5 separate regions of the Homo sapiens genome follow, and all the other regions are linked to region 1. The links come from fine-mapping of genetic effects on gene expression. A gene starts in region 1. Each other region holds a variant in brackets. All regions are shown on one strand. Distances are between the middles of the regions.

What was found. PIP is the estimated chance that this variant, and not a neighbour inherited with it, causes the effect.
Region 2: its variant is fine-mapped to the expression of RHOT1 in blood mononuclear cells (TOPMed, PIP above 0.99). The same link has a PIP of 0.9 or more in aorta, tibial artery and transverse colon.
Region 3: its variant is fine-mapped to the expression of RHOT1 in whole blood (INTERVAL, PIP above 0.99).
Region 4: its variant is fine-mapped to the expression of RHOT1 in whole blood (TOPMed, PIP above 0.99).
Region 5: its variant is fine-mapped to the expression of RHOT1 in blood mononuclear cells (TOPMed, PIP 0.96). The same link has a PIP of 0.9 or more in whole blood.

Annotation. Positions count from the first base shown.
Region 1 is chr17:32,139,564-32,144,693 of GRCh38, forward strand. It overlaps RHOT1 (ras homolog family member T1), which reads left to right and starts at 2,939. Exons shown (of 20, transcript NM_001033566.3): 1 at 2,939-3,166. The coding sequence starts at 3,130. LOC105371730 (a long non-coding RNA gene) reads right to left here and starts at 3,572. Exons shown (of 2, transcript NR_136413.1): 1 at 3,462-3,572; 2 at 1,663-3,150. RefSeq lists an enhancer at 2,270-2,439 and silencers at 2,900-3,129, 3,160-3,219.
Region 2 is chr17:32,073,337-32,078,466 of GRCh38, forward strand. No RefSeq gene overlaps it. Among named protein-coding and RNA genes, the nearest start is that of VILMIR, 7.1 kb to the right of the region's middle. The variant G/A (reference allele first, on the strand shown) is at 1,977.
Region 3 is chr17:32,239,896-32,245,025 of GRCh38, forward strand. It overlaps LOC124903979 (a long non-coding RNA gene), which reads left to right and starts at 3,589. Exons shown (of 2, transcript XR_007065709.1): 1 at 3,589-4,158. RefSeq lists a silencer at 895-1,189. The variant G/A (reference allele first, on the strand shown) is at 3,022.
Region 4 is chr17:32,252,766-32,257,895 of GRCh38, forward strand. It overlaps LOC124903979 (a long non-coding RNA gene), which reads left to right. Exons shown (of 2, transcript XR_007065709.1): 2 at 320-609. Among named protein-coding and RNA genes, the nearest start is that of RHBDL3, 11 kb to the right of the region's middle. The variant G/T (reference allele first, on the strand shown) is at 2,075.
Region 5 is chr17:32,186,952-32,191,951 of GRCh38, forward strand. The region is part of intron 8 of RHOT1 (ras homolog family member T1); the gene reads left to right. Among named protein-coding and RNA genes, the nearest start is that of RHOT1, 47 kb to the left of the region's middle. The variant C/A (reference allele first, on the strand shown) is at 1,885.

The sequences.
Region 1 (5,130 bases):
CCCGCCTCGGCCTCCCAAGGTGCTAGGATTACAGGTGTGAGCTATTGTGCCCGGCCTAGTCAGATTTTTATTTTTTTTTATTTAGAGACAGACTCTGGCTCTGTCACCCAGACTTGAGTGCAATGGTGCCATCATAGCTCACTGCAGCCTCCAACTCCTGGTCTCCAGTGATCCTCCCACCTCAGCCTCCCAACTGGGACTACAGGTGCATGCCACCACGCCCAGCTAATTTGTTTATTTTTTGTAGAGATGGGGTTTCAATGTTTCTCAGGCTGGTCTTGCACTCCTGGCCTCAAGAGATCCTCCCACCGCAGCTACCCCAAGCTTTGGGATTATAGGTGTTGAACCACCATACCTGGCTGGATATGGATTTTTAAGTAAGTTTTATTTACAAAGGAGTTCTTTGCAATATTGTATCTGTGATGTCCCTCTAAATAAATGCTTTTTCCAAGCCCCTGCCTACCAGACATTACCCAGTACACATCTACAACCCCACGAAGACCTTGTTACTGCTCACCCTCCTGGAGAAGCCCCAATGAGTCAACATTGTCATTAACTGGCAACGCTGATTGAGAGCTCTTAGGGATCTAGATTCTTCACAAAGCTGCATGGTGCAAGCAGTGCCCTAAAGAATTTGCCCCTCTGTAAAAGGCTTTTGTCCTCTGTGCTCTGATATTTGTGTAACTTGTTTTTTGTTTGTTTGTTTTTTAGGAAAAAGATTTACAATTCATTACATTATTCACATAAAATACATTATTTTATGAGCTCCTCCAAACAATTTCATAAGAGATCACAGCCTTCACTTGGTAGAGAGGAAACTGAGGCACAACTAGGTGACATGAGTTGCCTAGAGTCATGCACTAGGAATGGCAGAGCAAAGCTCAGCCTCAGCCATGCCGTCTGTGCCAGGTCATTGCGTCTCTGTGGGCCTTGCTTTTTTTTTTTTATCTACAGAGTAACGGGATTGGAATAGGAGCTCTGTCAGGGTTCTTCCAACTCAAACATTTTGTAACACTAAAATTCTGAGGGCTACTTTTCCCTGAAAGATCAGGTAACCAAGCCTCCTGAATTTCACATTTCCACTCATTGAGGTGTGGGGGGAGGAGGGAGATGAAAGCACCTTATTTACATCTACCCAGGAACGCGACTTCATTATCTCTCAGTGAACAAGGAGTATGTCTTTCCCATCTCCCTCTTTTTCCTAACACGGACAGGGATAGAGTTGTTTTTGAAAGGGCTTTCTCCCCTGTGCTCCTTATGGACATCAAATAACTAAGATGGTGAAATTCTGCAGTAAACACAACAACATATTTGCCTCAAAACCTGTGGATTAGGCTGGGCGCGGTGGCTCACGCCTGTAATCCCAGCACTTTGGGAGGCCAAGGCAGGCGGATCACGACGTCAGGAGATCGAGACCATCCTGGCTAACACGGTGAAACCCCGTCTCCACTAAAAATACAAAAAAAAAAAAAAAAAAATTAGCCGGGCGTGGTGGCGGACGCCTGTAGTCCCAGCTACTCGGGAGGCTGAGGCAGGAGAATGGCGTGAACCCAGGAGGCGGAGCTTGCAGTGAGCCGAGATTGCGCCACTGCACTCCAGCCTGGGCGACAGAGCGAGACTCCGTCTCAAAACAAAACCAAAACAAAACAAAAAATCTGTGGATTACAACTTTTTAGTGACTTTTTAATATAATAATGATAGCTGAGATCAGTAGAGCACACGCTCTGAGTCTGGCACTGTACCAAATGCTTGACAAGTATTATAGTATTTATTACTCACAACCATCTCAAGAGGAAGGTATTATCATCATTATTTCCATGCTACAGAAGAAGGAACAGTGGCTGAGGGAAGTAAAAATAAAAGCACTTAGTCGAGATCACAGAGCTATTATGTGGAGCCTAGATTCAAACCCAGGAAATTTGCCAGCAACTCTTAACTGCTGCAAGAGACCACATGACTTCTCCTAGGAGAAAGGGAAGTTGGTATTACGCACATTTCATTCCCTTTAAGTGTTTATTGTGTAATATTTAAGATAGAAAAAATGTACATTATGCACAGATAGTGCTTCCTCATTAATTTATGTATTTTATATTTCCCACTGTGTGCCAAGTATTAGGGATGTGATATATATTCGCACGCGTATGTATATATATATATTTGCCATTGTGTACCAAACATTAAGCATGTAACAACAAATTCCTCCAGATGGAGAGGGTCACGAGAAAATTAAGGCAATGTTAGAAAAATCATCTAGAGTTTATTATCGAGTGCCACCTCCGTGTCTAGCATTACGCTGGGTAAGCCTGAGTAAAGAAGAGTGTCCGAAAACCCTGCCATAAAATAAACTACATAGACAGAAAAAAAGTCACTTAGTTTGGTTATAAAGAAAGGAGTCTTGTTCACACAGCGTAAAAACGAATCTTATAATCGTATTTTATAAGCATCAGAGGCAAAAGCAACTAGGGTGACGGGCTTTGGGGAGTGGAAAGCGCCGGATCCTGGGAGCCAGTCGCCCTACTCGATCAAGCATTTTCTGACGGCCCTATCCAATAACGTGGGGACGCAGCTGAAAACCATGCAAGCTGATCGCTGCCCTCCCGGAGTTTATGGTCTGGTGAGAAGATCCCTGCTCTGAGTCACTGCCAAGCTCTAGCTATGTGACTTTGAACAGGGAATTTCTGTCCCTATCTATAAAATAAACGGGGTTAAACCAGGGAATCCGCCATTCAAATTCCTGGCCCAAGTGTCTCCGGGGTCGCGGTGCCCAAAGGAGGGTGGGCGAGGCTCCCTGGGCCTGCGCTGCGGCGGCCTGACAGCGGGAGCGCTGTTCCGGCGCAGAGCGCGTTCGCGTTCCGAAAGCGCGTGTCCCTCGCCGCGTGCCGTCGTCCCCGCCGCCGCCGCCGCCGCCGCCGCCGCCGCCGCCGCCGCCGCCGCCGCCACAGCCCGCTGGGCCGGAGGAGGCGGAGCTGGCGCTGTCCCGGCTCTCTTGCGGGGAAGCAACTGAGGGGGCGGCGCGGCGGGCCCCGGCGGCCGAAGAGGCTGGCAGGTGGCGCCGTGGGGTGGGTGCTCCTGGTGAGAGGAGTCCACTCCGTGCGTGCGGGCGGAGGCCGGCCCCCGAGAGCCGCCGACATGAAGAAAGACGTGCGGATCCTGCTGGTGGGAGAACGTGAGTCCGCACCCTCTGGCCGGCCCCTGAGTCCCTGCCCTCCCTGCCCCTGCAGCCCCTGTCGCCCCTGTCGCCCCTGCAGCCCCAACCTTTGCAGCCCCGGCCCTTCTCGCGCCTCACAGCTCCGCTCGCCTTTCTCCGCGTTCCTAGGCCTTCCAGCCCCTTCACTCTTCTCTTTTGGCTGGCCGCCGGCGGCCCTCACCCTGTCACCTCACCTGGGCCCTCCAGAGATCTCCTTTCCCTGTTCCCCAGCCGTCCTCCCAAGCCATGTCCCTATTAGCCCTAACCGCCCGACCTCATCCCTCCGAAGCTTCTCTCCTCCTTTTCCTCTTCGAACCCTGTCCTTCTGGGCCTCACAGTTTCCCAGGCCGCCTCCTTTCAGACCTTCTTGTCTTCTGGAGATTCCCTTATCACTGCCAGGCAGGTGCTGGAATAAGCAGACTGACCAATAGGGATTGCGTGAACCGGCTCCCGGGGAAGCTGGGGGAGGGGTGCAGAACTATTCGACTTGTGGGCAAGGTCAGGTTTCTGCATTTTTTTGGCACTCGCAGTCTTCACTCTCTCTATGTATTGACATTAAGATATGAGTAGTGGAAAGGGCCGGATCCTTTTTAGCAGTACTTGTACTTTGCATTGGACTAACTCCTCGTACTCGAGATATTTCATCAAAAATTTTTACTCAACTTCGAGTTATGCAAGCGCTCAATGAATTAGAATTATCTGGGGAGGGTCCAATTGTTGTTACCCTAAAGCGTAATCTTTGCCCTCTTTTTAAGCATTATTTATTCCATAGTTACTTCGTAGTTAACTTATTAATAACCACAGGCACACAGACATTTGATATCTCCCCCCACCCAGAAATTTCATACATTTCACCTTTTGAAAATATAATAAAGGAGAGTTCCCTCTGTTCACTGACATGAGGACGCAACAGCGGGGACTTCTTGATTTCACTCTGCAAGTTATGTAACTCAGTTGCTAGGACTAAAATAAGAAAGTGGGCCAGGGATAACTGGATTGTTTGTTTTAAAGAGTTAATACATTCGTTAATAGTCTGCCATTGCTGTTTCGAAGCATTCTGTTTTAAACCATTATTTCATTCTTGGTAACCCCTCAGGGTCACCGTGATGGAATCCCAAGGAAGAAAGTTAACACGTTTTTACCCTCTTCTGTAGTGTTCTTTGAGTTCATTGAAATTTCATCCACCTGCTGTTTGGAGAAATCTTCCTTTAGAATTAGAATTTAGGAGTAAGCTTAGCCAGCCATAGTTTACTTTTTGATTTGCAGTTGTAAATTTTTATTTTTATTTATAACTATATCTTAATCTGTATTTTTCATGGACTTCCTTGACAAGGTTCAGGAAGGTGTTATTTAACATATAATTCATGCTTATGCTTTTGGAGCAAGGTAGGGAAAGTGAGTAGACGACTTGCTTAAAAAACTGATCCTTAAATATATGATGAAATAGTTTGTTGTTGTTGTTGTTTTGAGACAGAGTCTCGCTCTGTCACCGAGGCTGGAGTGCAGTGCCTGGGATTACAGGCACTGTGGCTCATGCCTGTAATCCCAGCACTTTGGGAGGCCAAGGCAGGCAGATCACTTGAGGTCAGGAGTTCGAGACGAGCCTGGCCAACATGGTGAAACCCCGTCTCTACTAAAAATACGAAAATTAGCCGGGTGTGGTGGCACACACCTGTAGTCCCAGCTACTCTGGAGGCTGAAGCAGGAGAATCACTTGAACCCTGGAGGAGGAGGTTGCAGTGAGCTGAGACATGCCAGCCTGGGCAGCAGAGCAAGACTCTGTCTGAAAAAAAACCTTTAATAATGCTCCCACACAGCTGGGTGAGGTGGCTTATACCTGTATTCCAAGCACTCTGGGAGGCTGAGGCAGGAGGATCACTTGAGGCCAAGGAGTTTGAGACCAACCTGGGCAATGTAGTGAGATCCTGTCTCTACAAAAAATT
Region 2 (5,130 bases), 66 kb before region 1:
TGCAGAATCTAAAAAAAAAAAGTCACATTCACAGAAGTAGAGAGTAGAACAGTGCTTACTAGAGTCTGGGGTCGCAGAAAACATGTGGCCCAAAGGATACAAAGTTTCCAGTAGGAAGAGTAAGTGCTGGTGATCTGTTGCACAGCAAGGTGGCTATAGCTAATCATAATGTATATTTTTTTCTTTTTCTTTCTTTTTTTTTTTTTGAGACAGAGTCTCTTTCTGTTGCCCAGGCTGGAGTGCAGTGGCACAATCTCAGCTCAAGGCAACCTCCACCTCCCAGGTTCAAGCAATTCTCTGCCTCAGCCTCCTGAGGAGCTGGGACTACAGGCGCCCGCCACCACGCCTGGCTAATTTTTATATTTTTAGTAGAGACAGGGTTTCACCATCTTGGCCAGGCTGGTCTTGAACTCGTGACCTCATGATCCACCTGCCTCGGCCTCCCAAAGTGCTGGGATTACAGGCGTGAGTGACTGCGCCCCGCCCCATAATGTATTTTCAAACTTGTGAAATGAGTGGATTTTAAATGGTCTCCCTATAGGGTCTGGTGCGGTAGCTCACATGTGTAATCCCAGCACTTTGGGAGGCTGAGATGGGAGGATCACTTCAGCCCAGGTGTTCAAAACCAGCCTGGGCAATATTTTACAGAACCTGTCTCTAAAAAAACAAACTGTTCTTGCTACAAAGAAATAAGTATGTGAGGTGATGGATATGTTCATTAGCGTGACCTGCTTTATAATATATACAGTATTGAAACATCATATCATAGTCCATAAACGTATGCAATTACTTGTCAATTAAAAATAAAAATTAGGGATCAGATGTGGTAGCTCATACCTGTAATCCCAGCACATTGGGAGGCCAAGGCGGGTGGATCACTTGAGGTCAGGAGTTTGTGACCAGCCTAACATGGTGAAATCCCAACTCTACTAAAAATATGAAATTAGCTGGGCGTGGTGGCACGCACCTGTAATCCCAGCTACTTGAGGGCCTGAAGCAGGAGAATCGCTTGAATCCAGGAGGGGGAAGTTGCAGTGAGCCAAGATTGTGCCATTGCACTCCAGCCTGGGCAACAGAGCAAGACTCTGTCAAAAAAAAAAGAAAGAGGCTGGGCACGGTGGCTCACACCTGTAATCCCAGCATTTTGGGAGGCCAAGGTGGGCAGATCACAAGGTCAGGAGTTTGAGACCAGCCTGGCCAACATGGTGACACCTCATCTCTACTAACAACACAAAAATTAGCCGGGTGTGGTGGTGCGCACCTGTAGTCCCAGCTACTCAGGAGGCTGAGGCAGGAGAATGGCATGAACCTGGGAGGCAGAGGTTGCAGTGAGCCAAGATTACCTAGTGACAGAGCAAGACTGTCTCAAAAAAAAAAAAAAAGAGAGAGAGAGAAGGAAGGAAGGAGAGAGGGAGGGAGGGAAGGAGAAAGAAAGAGGAAGGAAGGAAGGAAGGAAGGGCTGGGCGCAGTGGCTCACGCCTGTAATCCCAGCACTTTGGGAGGCCGAGGCGAGCAGATCATGAGGTCAGGAGATCGAGACCATCCTGGCTAACACGGTGAAACCCCGTCTCTACTAAAAATGCAAAAAGTTAGCCGGGCGCGGTGGCGGGCGCCTGTAGTGCCAGCTACTCAGGAGGCTGAGGCAGGAGAATGGAGTGAACCTGGGAGGCGGAGGTTGCAGTGAGCCAAGCTTGCAGTGAGCCGAGATTGCGCCACTGCACTCCAGCCTGGGCAACAGAGTGAGACTCTGTCTCAAAAAAAAAAAAGAAAGAAAGGAAAGAAAGAGAGAGAGAAAAAGGGAGGGAGGGAGGGAGAGAGAGAGAGAGAGAGAAAGAGAAAGAAAGAAAAGAAAGAAAGAAAAAAAAGAAAAGGAAAGAAAAGAGAAAAGAAAAGATCTTCACTGTGGTCTGGCTTCCATTGCTAGTCGTTGTGTCTGCCTGGTTGAAATGTCCATCTTAGCATTCTGTTACTCTATC[G/A]GCATTCAGCTCTGGTAGTCACTGGTGTGACATTATTGCATAAATGTTCCTGGCCAACAGAGAAGGGGAAAATTTGTAGAAGGGAAGAAAGAATGGATGAGGGAGCATGGGTGGAAAACTTAAGGGTGGTCTGAGCTATACCCAGGAAGCCTGGGATTGGGAAAACCCAACTCTCAGCGCCCTTGGGGCTAAGAGCAACATAAGGTTTAGCAGCCTTAGTAATTTCTTTAAAATCTAAATTGGGGCCGGGTGCAGTGGCTCGTGCCTGTAATCCCAGCACTTTAAGAGACGGAGGTGGGTGGATCACCTGAGATCAGGAGTTCGAGACCAGCCTGGCCAATGTGGCGAAACTCCATCTCTACTAAAAATACAAAAATTAGCTGGGCATGGTGGCAGGCACCTGTAATCCCAGCTACTTGAGAGGCTGAGGCAGGGATAATTGCTTGAACCCAGGAGGTAGAGCTTGCAGTGAGCCGAGATGGTGCCACTATATTCCAGCCTGGGCAACACAGCAAGACTCCATCTTAAAAAAAAAATCTAAATTGGACCAGGCATGTTGGCTCACACCTGCAATCCCAGCACTTTGGGAGGCCAAGGAGACCAGCCTGGACAACACAGCAAGACCCCACCTCTACAAAAAACTTTAGAATTTGCCAGGCAGTCACAAGTCCCACCCAGGTTTAGGAGGTGGGAACACAGGTCCTGTGATATGGTTTGCATTTGTATCCCCCCCCACCCAAATCTTATGTTGAATTGTAATCCCTGGTGTTGGAGGAAGGGCCAGGTGGGAGGTGATTGCATCATGGGGTCAGAGTCCTCCCTTGCTGCTCTTGTGATAGTGAGTGAGTTCTTACAAGATCTGGTTGTTTAAAAGTGTATAGTACCTCCCTGCTCTTTCTCTTGCTCCTTCTCCAGCCATGTTTCCCCTTGGCCTTCCACCATGATTGTAAGTTTTCTGAGGCCTCCCCAGCTATGTTTCCTGTACAGCCCACAGAACCATGAGCCAATTAAGCCTCTTTTCTTTATAAATTACCCAGTTTCAGGCATTTCTTCATAACAGTGTGAGAAGGAACTAATACACCCCGCCTCTCACGAGAGGAGCACCAGCACTTTGTAAGAAGAGCCTATGCAATACGATCAATACCAGGGCTGACAATCTTTGCAAATCACAACCTGTCATTCCTTTCTCACTTCCCAGCTTCCCTGTTGCTATTTCCTGGGATCTGCTCCCAGGTCAACAACTTACCCCTGCAAATCTTTGTCTCAGGGTCTCTGCCTTTGGGAGGACCCAAACTAAGATATCCCACAAAATCAATAGTGTGTTTATATAGCTGGTATAGGTGTATGTAAACATTTAGAAAAAGGTCTGTAAGGATACACTCCAAACAGACAGCAGTAGCTTCTGTAAGGAGGGAACTGGGATGGGGGTTGAGAGGGTTCATGTATTAGGCCGTTGCCTATATGGGTAAATTTGCTGTAAAGAAATATCAAAGAATGGGTACATTTTATTTTATTTATTTTACTTTATTTCACTTTATTTTATTTTATTTGAGATGGAGTCTCACTCTGTTACCTAGGCTAGAGTGCAGTGGCACGATCTTGGCTCACTGCAACCTCCTCCTCCCGGGTTCAAGCGATTCTCCTGCCTCAGCCTCCCAAGTAGCTGTGATTACAAGTGTGTGCCACCACACCGGGCTAATTTTTGTATTTTTAGTAAAGATGGGGTTTCACCATGTTTGCCAGGCTGGTCTCAAACTTCTAACCTCAAGTGATCCGCCTGCCTCGGCCTCCCAAAGTGCTGGGATTACAGACGTGAGCCATCACACCTGGCTAGAATGGGTAATTTATAAAGAAAAGAGGCTTAATTGACTCACAGTTCTGCGGGCTGTACAAGCACAGTGCTGGCATCTGCTTGGCTTCTGGAAAGATCTCAGGGAGCTTTAACTCATGGCAGAAGGTGAAGCAGGAACTTCACATGGCAAAAGCAGGAGCAGGAGAGAGAGTGGGGTGGAGGGGAGGTGCCACACACTTAAACAACCAGATCTCCAGGCCAGGTGCAGTGGCTCAAGCCTGTAATCCCAACACTTTGGGAGGCCAAGGCAGGTGGATCATTTGAGGTCAGGAGTTCGAGACCACCCTGACCAACACAGTGAAACCCCATCTTTACTAAAAATACAAAAAAATTAGCTGGCCGCAGTGGCGCAGGCCTATAATCCTGGCTACTCAGGCGGCTGAGGCAGGAGAATCGCTTGAATCCAGGAGGTGGAGGTTGCAGTGAGCTGAGATTGCACCACTGCACTCCAGCCTGGGTGACAGAGCGAGAATCCATCTCAAAAAACAAACAAACAAAACAACTAATTCTCCAAAGAACTCACTCACAATTGTGTGGACAGCACCAAAGAGATGGCGCTAAGCCATTCATGAGGGATCCGCCCCCATGATCCAATCCCCTCCCACCAAGCCCCACCTCCAATATTGGGAATTACAGTTCAACATGAGATTTGGCAGGGAAACAGATCCAAACTACATCAGTTCATCTATAATATATGATTTTTTATTTATTTTTTTTTTTTTGCCCCGAGGGAGGAAGAATTTTCTGAATCCCTGTGGTTAGTAAAAGAGAGAGGCGGCCGGGTGCGGTGGCTCATGTCTGTAATCCCAGCATTTTGGGAGGCTGAGGCGGGCTGATCACGAGATCAGGAGATCAAGACCATCCTGGCTAACATAGTAAAACCCCGTCTATACTAAAAATACAAAAAAAATTAGCTGAGCGTGGTGGTGCATGCCTCTAGTCCCAGCTACTAGGGAGGCTGAGGCAGGAGAATGGCGTGAACCCAGGAGGCGGAGCTTGCAGTGAGCCGAGATCATGCCACTGCACTCCAGCCTGGGCGACAGAGCGAGACTTCGTCTTAAAAAAAAAAAGAGAGAGAGAGAGCCATGATCAGGAAGCCGTCATGATGACTCGTGGAGACACTGGCCCTGAAGTAGCTGCAACCCTCTTAATACACAGGAAGAAAGGGCTGGGATGCAGGAAGGAAGGGCTGGGAGGCAAGCACAGGCAGCCCCTCTGTGAACCCTCAGGTAGGAGCCACCAGCCATTTTACTGCTGAGTTTAGCATTTGGGGTTGTTCAAGAGTTCAGGGCTTCTGGGAGA
Region 3 (5,130 bases), 100 kb after region 1:
TTATGGGGGAGATGCCTGATTCAAAGATCTTCCAATACAATAGGGAGAGGTAATATGTAAATAAGCATCTACTATAGGTAGAAAAATAAGACCTATAAGAGATAAAATCAAGTGCAGGCCAGGCGCGGTGGCTCACGCCTGTAATCCCTGCACCTTTGGAGGCCGAGGCAGGTGGATCACCTGAGGTCTGGAGTTCAAGACCAGCCTGGCCAACATGGTGAAACCCCATCTCGACAAAAATACAAAAATTAGCCGGGCATGATGGCAGATGCCTGTAATCCCAGCTACTCGGGAGGCTGAGGAGGCAGGAGAATCGCTTGAACCTGGGAGGTGGAGGTTGCAGTGAGTCGAGATCGCGCCATTGCTCTACAGCCTGGGCGAAAGAGCGAGACTCCATCTCAAAAAAAAAAAAAAAAAAAAACAAATGCAATGGGAATTCAAGCAGAGGGGAGATTTTCTGCTGTTGAGGAGCTCCCAGAAAGCTTTTATGGAGGAGGTGGTGTTCACCTTGCCCCATAACAATTCATACATAAAGAATATTTAGTTAGTTTCATTTGGCCTGAAAGAATTCAGGTACCTGTGTGCCTCACGCTTCTGGGGCTGGAGATCAGTAATCACTTCACTGGATAAATTTCCTCCAGTTTGGTATGTAAAAATTGAGACACATACTTTCTATAAAAACTGTCAAAGTACAGCTGAATTTGAAAAAATATGCTGTGTAATAATGTGCTTGGAACAGAATAGGTGTTCATTTCAAGCAGCATGAACGCTGTGCTCACCTGTTATGTGTAAGTGGCAGCTGAAACATGTACCAGATTATAACTCTGCCACCAGCCAGGTGCAGCTGTAGCATCTTACATTGTCATCAGGATTCTTCCACATTTTAGGATCCACGTTTTGGGAGTGAGAGTTACTGTTTGCCAAAAATGACCTCCCAAGCCCAAATGAAGAGGACCTACTAGCGCAGCAGTCAGCGAGAAAGAATTGGGAGATGCCTGTCACTGGCAGAGAGAGCCTTCCTTATGTGGTCAGGACCATGGAAAGCCCAAAGCCAAGGGACCTGGGAAGTCAGCCAAGGACGCTTGCCTGGGTGTCTCCTGGCTGGTTTCTCTGTGCTGTGGAGCCACCTATGTTTAGAACCTCTTGCCGCGCTCCCTCTGCTGAGCTTATATTTATGCTAGATCAAATGTTTAAACTGCTTTTCTCTTTGTGGATCACAAATTTTAGAACAGAAAATGCGGGTTCCGGAGGGTGTGAGAGACAGGGACAACCATATGTATTGCTTCAGTAGATGCTTCAGAGAAAGAAGACACTTAGTTCTCTAGTTGTTCACCCAACCCAATACGGTTTCTGCTCCTTAAGCTACATTCCTATAAAGATTAGCTTTCAGCTGCTACCACCAAGAAACAGTTCAAGTGCTGCTTATGTTGTATTTTAACTAAAGATCTCAAGAACAAAAAGAAATCCCTAGATGCTGACATTCCAAGCAAACTTAGGTCAGGGGTGGAGGCGGGGAATTGACAGATAAAGATTTCGGTGAGCAGGCAGTTCTCACCTTAGGTGAGTTCACAGTGTGCAGGGGTGCTTGGTGGGATGGTATCCATTTCTTTCATCTTTGAGAGATTTAAGGGGTGCTTACAATAAGGGGATACCCAATCTGCCTATCCTGACACATTCAACACGAGTTCTTAAATTCTCAGCTAATGGGTTGGATTCCCATTCATTTTATAGGCAGGATGGCTCTATTTGGATGACCCTTCTCAAAAAGTAAAAACAACAAAGGCAAATAAATCCTTCCGAGAGAGAGTATGAGGCTATGGCAGACAAGGTAAAATGCCTGTCACAGGAGATAAATTATTTTGCTCATTAACAAGTCATTTGTCCTTTGATTTCTCAAAGCCCTAGAGAAACAGGAGCTCAGCTGACAATGACCTGAGGGGACCCCTACAGTGCTTCAAACAGTGGATGGAGGAGGAGATGCCTTCCTGGTTAAGAAATTATCCCTGAGCCCTTGTAGAGGACAGTCCAGCACAGGAAATTCTGGAACTACAAGATGAAAATGTGTGCCAGCATGCTTCTACTTTCAGGGTACAGTCTGAGGCCCTAGGGAGGAGGAGTTCCTCAAGTGCTTTGACCTCTTGCCAGGACAAAGACGGAGAAGTATTTAGAAGCATCTGAATTTGTTAGCTCTTCAGTTTTCCTCCTCCACTCCCTACCCTGCACACAGAGCCTCAGAAGGACAGACCAGCTTCACCCCCTTACCAGCAATTACTGAAGAATCACACCCCACCCACCTCAGGATCACTGATCTCCTTCCTATATGGGAACCCTGACCCTTGGAGAAAAACCGCTGACCTACAAACTCCCCACATTCACCTAGAGAGCACCAGAGCAGAGTTCTGAGTGAGATAAGCAGTCCTTTAGGGGGATCTGTTTTTCCAGCTCTCATTTTTCCCCCCTTATTTCCTTTATCTCTAGAATTCTAAGAGCTGTACTGTTCATTGTTTCTACCCATCATTATTAAGGGAGAGATATGGAAACATTCCCATGGTAACAGTTTCATCTCAAAATATCTGAATGCTATTAGCTGCCTTTCCACTCCAGGGAAAAGATGAGATTTTTTTTTAAAAAAAGAAATCTTTATTCTCAGGATATAGTTGACAGGTCCTCTCCACACTGCAGGGAGGCCTGCCCAGATCAGTGGAGATGGGAAAGGGCTCATAAAGCCAAATTTGTTTCTTAGCTGACTTCACTTCCTGAACATTTCAAAAACTTATTATTACATGGTTCTGACACCGACCCAGAGAATTGCTGGTGGAAGTACTGATGAAAACACCAACATCTCTGGGGGAAGTCATCAACTGGGAGCATATGAGATGGGCCAGCACAGACTTGGCTCAAAGACCCACAGACCACACTGTGTTACTGGAGAGCAACAGGTTTGAACAAACTCAGAGGTATGCGCTGGTTGCCATCAGAAAGCTGGGGAGAGAAAATGGGATAGGAAGCGTTGTACCTCAT[G/A]TTCATGACACGCTTTATGGCTGGCCAAGGGCTTTTCCTATTGAAATGGGATGATGGAGGAGATAGGACACATTTATCTTAAACATGCATCTTAATTATCTATTGCTGGCGGGGTGTGGTGGCTCACACCTGGAATCCCAGCACTTTGGGAGGCCAAAGCGGGTGGATCACTTGAGCCCAGGAGTTCGAGACCAGCCTGAGCAACATGGTCTCTATCCATCTCTACAAAAAGTTAAAAAATTAGCCGGGTATGGGACTGCACGCCTGTAGTCCCAGCTACTCAGGGGGCTGAGGTGAGAGGATCTCATGAGCTGAGGAAGCAGAGGTTGCAGTGAGTTGAGATTGTGCCACTGCTCTCTAGCCTGAGTGACACAGCAAGACCCTATCTCAAAAAAATATATTTTATATATATAATATATATAATATTATGATATATATTATATAAAAATTATATATATAATATATAATATATGATATATCATATATGATATATGATATATCATATATCATATATATCATATATCATATATATAGCTGCATGACAAATTATTCCAAAACTTGGCAGCTTAAAATAAACATGTTATCTCACAGTCTCTGTGGGTCAGGAATTTGGGAGCAATTTAGCTGGGTGATTCTGGCTCCAGGTCACTAATTAGATTGTATTCAGACTGTCAACCAGGGCTGCAGTCACCTGAAGGCTTGACTGGGGCTGGGAGATCCCTTTCCAAGATAGCACATTAGCCATTGGCAGGAGGCCTCAGCTCCTCACCACATGGGCCTCTCTTCACAGCGCTGCTTGAATGACATGGCAGTTGGCTGACCCTGGAGCAAGTGACCCAAGACATAGAAAACAGGAGGAAGCTGCACTGTCTTGTTTGACCTAGTCTCAGAGGGCACACATCATTGCTTCTGCCATATTCTGTTCTATAGAAGCATGTCACTAAGTCCAGCACACATGTTTGGGGAGGGGAATCGAGCCACCTCTTGAAAGGAGAAGTATCAAGGACTCTGTGAACATGTTTTAGGACTATGATGTCATGGCAGTTATGAAAACTAATGTGTCAGTGCTGTATGTACTGATATGAAGCAATCTCCAAGATGTATCTTCAGTGACAACAGCATGATGCAGAACGCTAGGTAAGTCTGGATACTATTTGCAGTTTTAAAAAGGGAGGAGGGAGCCAGGCGCGGTGGCTCACGCCTGTAATCCCAGCACTTTGGGAGGCCAAGGCGGGTGGATCACAAGGTCAGGAGATTGAGACCATCCTGACTCACACAGTGAAACCCCGTCTCTACTAAAGAAACACAAAAAATTAGCCAGATGTGGTGGCGGGCACCTGTAGTCCCAGCTACTTGGGAGGCTGAGGCAGGAGAATGGCCTGAACCCGGGAGGTGGAGCTTGCGGTGAGCCAAGATCGCAACACTGCACTCCGGCCTGGGCAACAGAGCGAGACTCTGTCTCAAAAATAAATAAATTAATTAATTAATTAATAAAAAAGGGAGGAGGGATAAATATGCAGTTATGCATAGACTACCTCTCAGAGGACATACAATAAACTGGCCTCAAGGAGGAGGGCTGGGGACAGGTGGGAGAGAGATTTGTTTTCTGTACCTTTTGGATTTTATTTGAGCAAGTATTACTCTTTGATAATAAAATTTAATTTCAAAAATAGATTAAAATAACATAGAAATAAATAACATTGTTGAAAGAACTTAGAATGACCAGTTTGAGATGGAATTTTTTTTTTTTTGAGGTGGGGTTTCACTCTTGCCCAGCAGGGAGTACAGTGACACGATCATAGTTCACTGCAGCCTCGCCCTCTCAGGCTCAAGCACTCCTCCCACCTCAGCCTCCCAAGAAGCTGGGACTACAGGCACATGCCACCACACCTGACGAATTTTAAAAAATTTTTAGAAGAGGTGAGGTCTTGCTAGATTGCCCAGGCTCAAATTCCTGAGTTAAAGCAGTCCTCCTGCCTCAGCCTCCCAAAGTGCTGGGATTACAGGCATAAGCCATTGTGCACCTGGTTGGAATTCACTTTTTAAAGCTATTGGGGCCAGCAGTGAGCTATGATTGTGCCTGGGTGACAGAGCAAGACCCTGTCTTGA
Region 4 (5,130 bases), 110 kb after region 1:
TGGTGTCATTCAACATACTCTTCTAAATATATTTATTCATTAATGACCAATGTATTTCCTGTGAATTGGATCTAGAGACTTGAACAGATTCACGTTCAATTCTGTAGCAAAAATACTTAGGGGGTGCTGTATACTTCCATCAGAGGCAGCAAATATCTGGTTTCTTTCTGTGATGCTAGCCTATCATTATCGCCTAGACCCGCAAATTGACTGACAATTAATTTTAAGGAACAAATGTGGCTGCAATGGCTTTCTGAGTAATACGTGCAGAAAAACACGTCCTGTAAAGTGTATTGTTTGTTTGTTTTTTGTTTTCTAGGCATGAAAACAGCCCTGGAAGTCTGCCCTGGCGCCTGCACTGAGACTAATCCAGGTCACTTTAGGGAAACTGCCCAGCTCTGGCACCGCACTGTGTGTCTGTCAGCTCTGTGGGGTGCTATGGCCTCATTTTCCCACTAGAGGACACTGTGGCTCCAGGACTTCATGTGGCGCCCAGCCAGTCTTGCTACTCCAGCACCTCTAAGGAGGCAAAGCCTTTAGTGTGCATTTATTAGGTACCAACTGGGTGCTTTCTGTATCAAGCAGAGAAATAAAAGAGGTCAAACACAAGGTCCTGTGGCATTGTTTCCTGATGTAGTTTCTTTCTTTTTCTTTTTCTTTTTTTTTGAGATGGAGTCTTGGTCTTGTCGCCCAGGCAGGAGTGCAGTGGCGCCATCTCAGCTCACAGCAACAACTGCCTCCTGGGTTCAAGCGATTATCGTTACTCAGCCTCCCAAGTGGCCGGGATTACAGGCGCCCGCGACCACACCCGGCTGATATTAGTATTTTTAGTAGAGACGGGCTTTCCGCATGTTGCCCAGGCTGGTCTCGAACTCCTTACTTCAGGTGATCCACCCGCCTCGGCCTCTCAAAGTGCTGGGATTACAGGCGTGATCCACCACGTCTAGTCGTGTTTCCTGATGTAGTTTCTTTGCATTATTTTATTTTATGTATTTGTTTATTTTTTGAGACAAGGTCTTACTGTGTTACCCAGGCTGGAGTGCCGTGGTGCAAACACAGCTCACTACAGCCTTGAACTCCTGGGCTCAGACAATCCCCCCATCTCCACCTTCTGAGTAGCTGGGACTACAGGTGCCTGCCACTGTGCCCAGCTAATTTTTAAATTTTTTATTTGTCAGGATGGAGTATCACTATGTTGCCCAGGCTGGTCTCAAACTCCTGGGCTCAAATGATCCTCCCACCTCAGCCTCCCAAAGTGCTGGGATTACAGGCATGTATTTCCCTTTAGAAAACAACAGAGGTGCTTCTCCATCTGCTGGAAACCATTTTAGCCCCTGCTGTAGGATGGCTGCCTCCTGCAAATTCGGTTACCTAGTTGTTTTTTTTTTTTTTTTTTTTTCAGACAGGGTCTCACTCTGTCGCCCAAACTGGAGTGCAGTGGTGCAGTCTTGGCTCATTGCAACCTGTGCCTCCCAGGCTCAAGTGATTCTCCTGCCTCAGCCTCCCGAGTAGCTGGGACTACAGGCGCTCACCACTACGCCTGGCTAACTTTTGTATTTGTAGTAGAGACGGGGCTTCACCACATTGGCCAGGCTGGTCTCAAACTCCTGACCTCAAACTATCCACGCGCCTTGGCCTCCCAAAGTGCTGAGATTACAGGCATGAGCCACCGCACCCGGCCGTTGGATGTTTTTTTTTTAACTGCAATATTTGGGCTTTGGGGAGTGTGAATATATCCAAGAAAGATGCCAAAGTGTATTCATCTCTGAAATAATTTATTCATTTATTCAACTCCATGTATTGAGTATCCTGGGCGGGGAAGGAATGGGGAACGGATGCTTACTGAGAGCTACTCTGTGCCAAGTACTGTCCCATCCTTTTTACCTACATCCTCACAAGATGGGTAATATTAGCCTCATTTAAATCCAAGGAAACTGAGGCTCATTGAGGTTAACCAGCCTGCTGAAAGTTATCCTGCCAGATGCAAATGGAAGTCTAAATGGATAAATATGTATGTTTTCCACCAAATCCCTCAATGCCACACTGACAAGCATGGTACTAGGATGTAGAGAAA[G/T]TAAGATGATTATAGAGACATCCTTTCCTTAAGGAGGTCATCATATAACACAGAAGTTGCAATAAATGGACAATTATAGAACTTCTAATAGGTGGGCACCCTTTCAATAAGTAGCTGACCACGCACAGCCTCCCTCTGCTGCTATGACACTGTCCTTATGCAGAGGTAGGCACTGACCACCAAGAATAGGGCCTCTGCTTGTAGTGATGCCTTTGTGTTGACTGTCCACTCACCCTCACCCCATCACCCCCATGACCAAGGTTTCTGGGGGCAACAGCATGATTCAGGCTATAACCACCAATCCGCATGGAGAATGTAGCAAAGCCAAGACAGACATCTTCCCTACTGCTCAAAATCTCTAGTTTAGGCTGGGCGCAGTGGCTCATGCCTGGAATCCTGGCTTTGGGAGGCTGAAGCAGGTGGATCATTTGAGACCAGTTCAAGATCAGCCTGGCCAACATGGTAAATCCCCATCTCTACTAAAAATACAAAAAAATTAGCCAGATTTGGTAGTATGCTCCTGTAGTTCCAGCTACTTGGGAGGTTGAGGCAGGAGAATTGCTTGAACCTGGGAGGTGGAGATTGCAGGGAGCTGAGATTGCGCCACTGCACTCCAGCCTGAGTGACAGAGCGAGAGTCTGTCTCAAAAAAAAAAAAAAGTCTCTAGTTTAATGGAGGAAGACAAACACAGACATATGCAATACCAGGACAAAGCAATGAGTTCTTGAAAATTCTGTGATAATGCAGCAAATAATTTTAAATGCCCTTCCAGTTATTCATATTTTCTTTTCTTTTCTTTTCTTTTTTTTTTTTTTGAGACGGAGTCTCGCTCTGTCGCCCAGGGTGAAGTGCAGTGGCGCGATCTCGGCTCATTGCAAGCTCCGCCTCCCAGGTTCACGCCATTCTCCTGCCTCAGCCTCCCAAGTAGATGGGACTACAGGCGTCCGCCACCATGCCCGGCTAATTTTTTTTTTGTATTTTTAGTGGAGACGGGGTTTCACCGTGTTAGCCAGGATGGTCTCGATCTCCTGACCTCGTGATCTGCCCGCCTCTGCCTCCCAAAGTGCTGGGATTACAGGCGTGAGCCACCGCGCCCAGCCGGGTTATTCATATTTTCAAGCCCACTTAGCCTGTCCCAGCCTTGTCCCTACTGCCTCATAGTTCGGCCCTGGCAGCACAACTGAATTCATATTGTCAGAGCCCAAGCTGTGTTATTTACTAAAATCTGACCAGTTGCACTAAGGAGAAAATGACAGCTGGCAGCTGGGAGAATGGACTGGCTGGTGTAAGTTGGGAAAAAGAGACACAGGTGGCAGGTGTCTAAAGAAGCAGAGCTGTGGGTGTTTGGAGAGGCCCAATCCCAAATGCCACTTCAGCTTCAGGCAACCACAGCTTCAAGGTTCCGGGAAGGAAGGACAAGCGTGGGTGTGCTCCAGCCACCACCCTCCTCCAAGTGAGTCCTGGGATAATGAATGAGCGGTCAGCCAGAGTCTTTGCTCTCTGATGAAAGGACCTCCGCTGCAGACTGTCCCTCTGCAAATACGATTGTGCCCCAGGAACCATCTGGCAAATGTGCCAGTTCCTTCAGCATTTCTGTTATTTCCGTGACTTTTGGCCCCTTTTTTTCCTGGGATATAAATTGTTGCAGCAAGCCAAGCCAAGCCAGCAGAATGTTTACTGCCGCTTTGCAGGCCTTCTCTGAGCCTGGTTAACCCCATGGCTCACAGCCTATGAGGCTGCTCACAGCTAATGATGTCTTGGATGCATGCGTCTCCCCTCTGCCGTTCTTGTGTATTTTGGAGTATGCAGAGCCAGGCATGTGAGCTGCAGCCCAGAGCTACAGTGACCACATTGAGAAGCTGGGTTTGGGGGAAGTGCATTTCTGTTGCAGGATGTCCTTCACGGAGAAGGGACAGGTTGATTTCATCTCTCTGCAGATGACGTGGACAGCTCCCCAAGGAGCCACAACAGGCCACCCCAGCTGTAGGACAGATCACGTGCTTTGGCTGCACAGGGGAGGATGCCCAACAAACCGAGACGGCCCACGTCAGCCACTGGGCCCCATTTTGCACAGTGCCACGTTCCTCCTCTGACCTGGCCTGATGGTGGGCGAGGCTGAAGAGTTATGGGTCACCTTCAGACCCTTTGAGCCAGCCCCTCAGTTTCAGTCTGCTTCGCTGATTTTCATTCAGAGAACAGATACCGGCATGTGGAAGGGGAGACTTACTCAAGTCACTCATCTCCTTGGTGATGCACTTCATGGGCAGGGAAGCCATATGGAGCCGTCAACCATAAGTCCCCTCATCCCAACCCAGGGAGTACCAGATTGTTCTAAAGGGGGGGCAGAGGAAGCAGTCAATGCAAAGACTCCCCGAATGTCACTGTCAGCCTAACAGTGGACAAGTGGGCAGTTCCAATGCAGATTCACACCTTCCTGCCTTAGTACATGCAGTTCCTTCTGTCTTGAACACATCAGGCCCCATCCACCTGGTGAACTCCTACTCAATCTTTTAAGATCCAGCTCCAGCATCACCTACTTGGACGCCTTAATGCCACCACATCCTTTGCACCCATCTCTACTTGTACCTGTCACATTGCACCTGCAGTTGTTTTTAGCTAGCATGCCTTTTCCACCTGACTTCGAGTTCACTGAGGGCAGAGAACTATGTTTCACTAATCTCCAGGTCTAGAGACTTGGTCTGTAAACGTGTTTATCAGCAGTGTTTTGGAAGGGAAAATCAGGGATTATGGAATTTAGAGATGGATTCTCCTCCAGAAATCTCTTAGTCCCTCCCACTGGTTTCACAAAAGACAAAACTGAGATTAGGAAACTGCCTTCCCCAGGGCCACAAGGCTAAACAGTGACAGAGCTTGGACAAGAGCCTAGGTCTGCTGGCCCCTTGTCCTGCTCTCAGGTACTAAGAAATCAGATCCTGCCGGGCGCGGTGGCTCACGCCTGTAATCCCAGCACTTCGGGAGGCCAAGGCACGCAGATCACCTGAGGTTGGGAGTTCGAGACCAGCCTGACCAACATGGAGAAACCTCGTCTCTATTAA
Region 5 (5,000 bases), 47 kb after region 1:
GGTTGTCTTTTTTTAAATTATTATTAAAGGTAATTTTTATTTTAAGAAGCGGGGGCCGGGTGCAGTGGCTCATGCCTGTAATCCCAGCACTTTGGGAGGCTGAGGCAGGGGGATCACTTGAAGCCAGGAGTTCGAGACCAGCGTGGCCAACGTGGCAAAACCCTGTCTCTACTAAAAATACAAAAGTTAGCTGGGCATATTGGCGCATACCTGTAATCCCAGCTACTCGGGAGGCTGAGGCACGAGAATCATTTGAATCTGGGAGGTGGAGGTTGCAGTGAGCTGAGATTGCACCACTGCACTCCAGCCTGGGCTACAGATTGAGACTCTGTCTCAAAAAAAGAAAGAAAGAAACAGGTCCTTGCTATATTGCCCAGGCTGGTCTTGAACTCCTGGCCTCCTCCTGCCTCAGCCTCCTGAGTAGCTGGGATTACAGGTGTGAGTCACCACACCACCACACCCAGCTTGAGGTGATTGCTTTGATTCTGTTTGTCGGGAGAGGTATTGTTTTTAAGAATAAAAAGTTGCAGATATCTTTCAGGAAAAGTTTATAGTATAAGTGAGTGGTTAGCAATGACTCATGGCCTACCACCTATTTTCACAGTCTGTACACTAAGGAAACATTTTATATTTTTATTTATTTATTTATTTGAGATGGAGTCTCGCTCTGTTGCCCACGTTGGAGTGCAGTGGTGTGATCTCAGCTCACTGGGTTCAGGTGATTCTCCTGCCTCAGCCTCCCAAGTAGCTGGGACTACGGGCATGTGCCACCACATCCAGCTAATTTTTGTATTTTTGGTAGAGACGGGGTTTCACCATGTTGGCCAGGCTGGTCTCGAACTCCTGACCTTAGGTGATCTGCCTGCCTTGGCCTTTCAAAGTGCAGGGATTACAGGTGTGAACCACTGTGCCTGGCCATATATTTTTAAATGATTGAAAAAAGTCAAATAATATTTTGTGATAGGTGAAAATTATATTACATTCAAATTTTATCATTTCATAAAAATAAAGTTTGATTGTAACATAGCCATGGTCATTCTTTTATGTTATCTGTGGCTGTTTGTGTGCTGCAAAGGCAAAGTTTAATAGTTTCAATAGAGCTTATATGTGCTACTCTCATCTCTTCTCACTGCTGCTGAGTGCACTACTAATTGCGCTGACACACTAGACAGCATTTCAAGTACTATGTATATCACTCTACCAGGACCTTTTATTTATATTCATTGCATACTCATCATGCCAAAGCATGAAAAGAATAATAAAGTGTTTTTTAGATGGGAAAGCAGATAAATATTCCAGGTTCAAATTACAGTTCCAGCATCATCTTTTTAGACCTTGATGCAAATGCAAAGGAAATTTCCATATTTTGTAATCCACTTAACTATGCAATTGAGTTTCCATTAACCTTCAATTGGAATTGATTAATCTGCAGTGTAATGACATGCTAAAAGGCAAACATCAAGAAAATAATCAAATATAATTTTATAAATACCTTGTGCTCTATAAAGTCATAGGTTTGTGGATATGTACCAGTATTGGCAGTATATATTTGTGCAAAGAGACATTTTCAAAGATGGGACATGTAAAATCTCATTACAGATCAGCATTAACATATAAACATTTGCAATTAATTTTCATGGTGGACAACACTAACTTCAAACCCCAACAAAGCAAAATGTTTTCCTTCCAAAAAGAATTTCATTCTTCTCATTAATAAATCTGTATTGCAAAACTGTACTCAGTTATATTTTGAGTTTTGTCAAAAAAACTTTGTAGAAGTTTGATTTCTTTCTTACTATGTAAGTACCTACATGACATGCTTGATTTTGCCTGTTGGCCCCAAAGCCTAAAATATTTGCTATGTGGTCCTTTACAGAAAATGTG[C/A]CAACTCCTGGTATAAATAATTAATTTGAGTTATCCCTTAATCTGGTGCTAGTTTACTCTTATTCCTGGTTTACTTTTCCTTAGTTAGGATTCTTCTTTCTAATTTACTCCGAATCCAGTATTTCCCAAACTTACCTCATCGTAATAGTCACTAAGTGTTACTTGTTAAAAACATAGATTCTGGCCGGGCAAAGTGGTTCACGCATGTAATCCCAGCACTTTGGGAGGCCAAGGCGGGTGGATCATGAGGTAGGATATCGAGACCATCCTGGCTAAGATGGTGAAACCCCGTCTCTACTAAAAATACAAAAAAATTAGCTGGGCGTGGTGGCGGGCACCTGTAGCCCTAGCTACTTAGGAGGCTGAGGCAGGAGAATGGCATGAACCCAGGAGACGGAGCTTGCAGTGAGCCGAGATCGTGCCACTGCACTCCAGCCTGGGCGACAGAGCGAGGAGACCCCACCTCAAGAAAAAAACAAAACAAAAAACAACAAAAAAACACATAGATTCCATTCTGATTCAGCTAGGTGTTGTATTTATGATACAGGAAATTTGGGAAACAGTCTTAATACTGTGGGAACTCTTACAAGAATTTACCTCTGAGGCCTTAGCCTAGCAGTATATGAAATCCCCTCTATTAGTTTGTTCTCAGTTTTTTAATTGTTACTTTGTTCTCGGGCCTGTTATTAGTTCTGCTAATCTGTTAATCCCTCATCCCCACCCCCATCCCACAAGAGTAAAATATCTACCACCATCTGTTACTCAGTTCTTAGGTGGACCTGAGTGAGAGGTAAAATTTTCAACTTTTAAACTATACCTTGTTTTACACAAGTGCAAACTTTAAATTGCCTATAACGGAATCTTTTATTTAGACAACAACAATATCTTTTCTTTTCTTTTCTTTTTTTTTTTTTTTTTTGAGATGGAGTCTCTGTCTCCCAGGGTGGAGTGCAATGGCACGATCTCAGCTCACTGCAACCTCCGCCTCCCAGGTTCACATGATTCTCCTGCCTCAGCCTCCCAAGTAGCTGGGATTACAGGGATGCACCACCATGCCTGGCTAATTTTTGTATTTTTAGTAGAGATGGGGCTAGCCTGGTCTCAAACTCCTGGCCTCAAGTAATTTGCTCGCCTTGGCTTCCCGAAAGTGTGTGAGCCACCACGCCCAGCCAAATACCATAATTTTTTATAGCTTTATTAAGTAGAATTTTTAATACTTTTTAGTAGTCCTTTTTTGGTGTTACATTTTCAGGTGGTTAGTTTTTAAATATGACATTGGGCCAATACCTTAGAGCTCTTTAGCTTTGCATTTCAAGCTTTAATGAAAAGTGCATCGTTGGCCGGGCGCAATGGATCATGCCTGTAATCCCAGCACTTTGGGGGGCCGAGGCAGGCAGATCATGAGGTTAGGAGATCGAGACCATCCTGGCTAACATGGTGAAACCCCGTCTCTACTAAAAATGTGAAAAATTAGCTGGGCATGGTGGCAGGTGCCTATAGACCCAGCTACTCGGGAGACTGAGGCAGGAGAATCGCTTGAACCTGGGAGGCAGAGGTTGCAGTGAGCCAAGATCGCACAACTGCACTCCAGCCTAGGCGACAGAGCAAGATTCTGTCTCAAAAAAAAAAGGAGAAAAGTGCATTGTTTATTTTTCTTAAAATTACTTTTTGAAAATGTATCCCTTTATTATGTGAGGAAAAATCACTTAGACAAAATAAAAGATTAGGTTCTGTTTTGTATATTCTTGCTATTGCTTCTTTTGGAAACATTTAAATTATTAAACTTTTTTAAAAGGAGAGTAAATAAAATATAACAATGTAGTTTTTATTAATCTTTAATGACTAACAGGATCACATTTATAGAAGCATTATCTTACCATTCATTATTTTAAAGAATAAATCATGTGTGATTATAGATGTTATAGTCCATTTAGTACTCTTTTATAAGGGAAGCCCCGTCAGATGCTTTCTTTTTTTTGAGACGGAGTCTTTCTTTGTCTCCCAGACTGGAGTGCAGTGATGGAATATCGGCTCACTGCAACCTCTGCCTCCCGGGTTCAAGCGATTCTCCTGCCTCAGCCTCCCAAGTACTGGGACTACAGGCACATGCCACCACACCCAGCTAACTTTTGTATTTTTAGTAGAGACAGGGTTTCGCCATGTTAGCCAGGCTGGTCTCGAACTCTTGATCTCAGGTGATCTGCACTCCTCGGCCTCCCAAAGTGCTGGGATTATAAGTGTGAGCCACCGCGCCCAGCCTCAAATGCTTTCTAAATGTTTGACTTCTTTTTCTCGTTTCTTTCTCTTTGTATCTTAAGTTTTATCTTTTTCTCACTATATCAAATTACTCTCCCAGAGACCCCATTTAAAACAAGAATAGAAGGGGTTAACTGTGTATGTTTGGAAGATAATTATTTTCTTTCCTATTTTTTAAAGAATTTCTTTTCTGCATTTGAGTTTGATAGCATGATCAAAGCTGTCATCATTACCATTTTGTAAGTTAATAAGTTTATATTTCCTCACCTTGACATCTCATTTCTCTGATTTAGATGATCTAAATAAAGATCTATCTCCAAGCTTAGACAAAAGTCAGAGCTCTCCTTGAAGTTTTATTCTCAAAATTGTTGATAGTGATTACCCTATAGTGGTTATACAGTGTAGAAGCATGTGGGCCTTATTTTAAAATAGTCATATATTTATTCTATCCATGATGAATCATAAAACAAAAATGAAGGAAATTGTCAGAATATATTTCCAGCAGCATTAGTCATAAAAGTTTTAGAGTCACAAAAGGCAAAATTCTTTTTAAAGTATAAATAATTCTTATACTAGGAAGTTAGTAAAAATTTTTTACACTTATTAACCAGTGATAATTTTGCCACTTGTTTGTGAATAAGCGTATTTTATTTCCCAGCTTTAACATACACACAGGGGAAAGATCAAAACAAATCTCATTCTGCTACCAGAAGTCTGATGATCAGAAATCAGAAGTTGAGGGGAAAGTCCTTAGTAGTTTTAAAAGTCAGTTCATATCCTCTATGGAATGAGGGAAGATATAAATAAATAAACAGTTCTTCTTTCTGTGACTAGAAAAATGAATCCCTCCTAAAGATGAA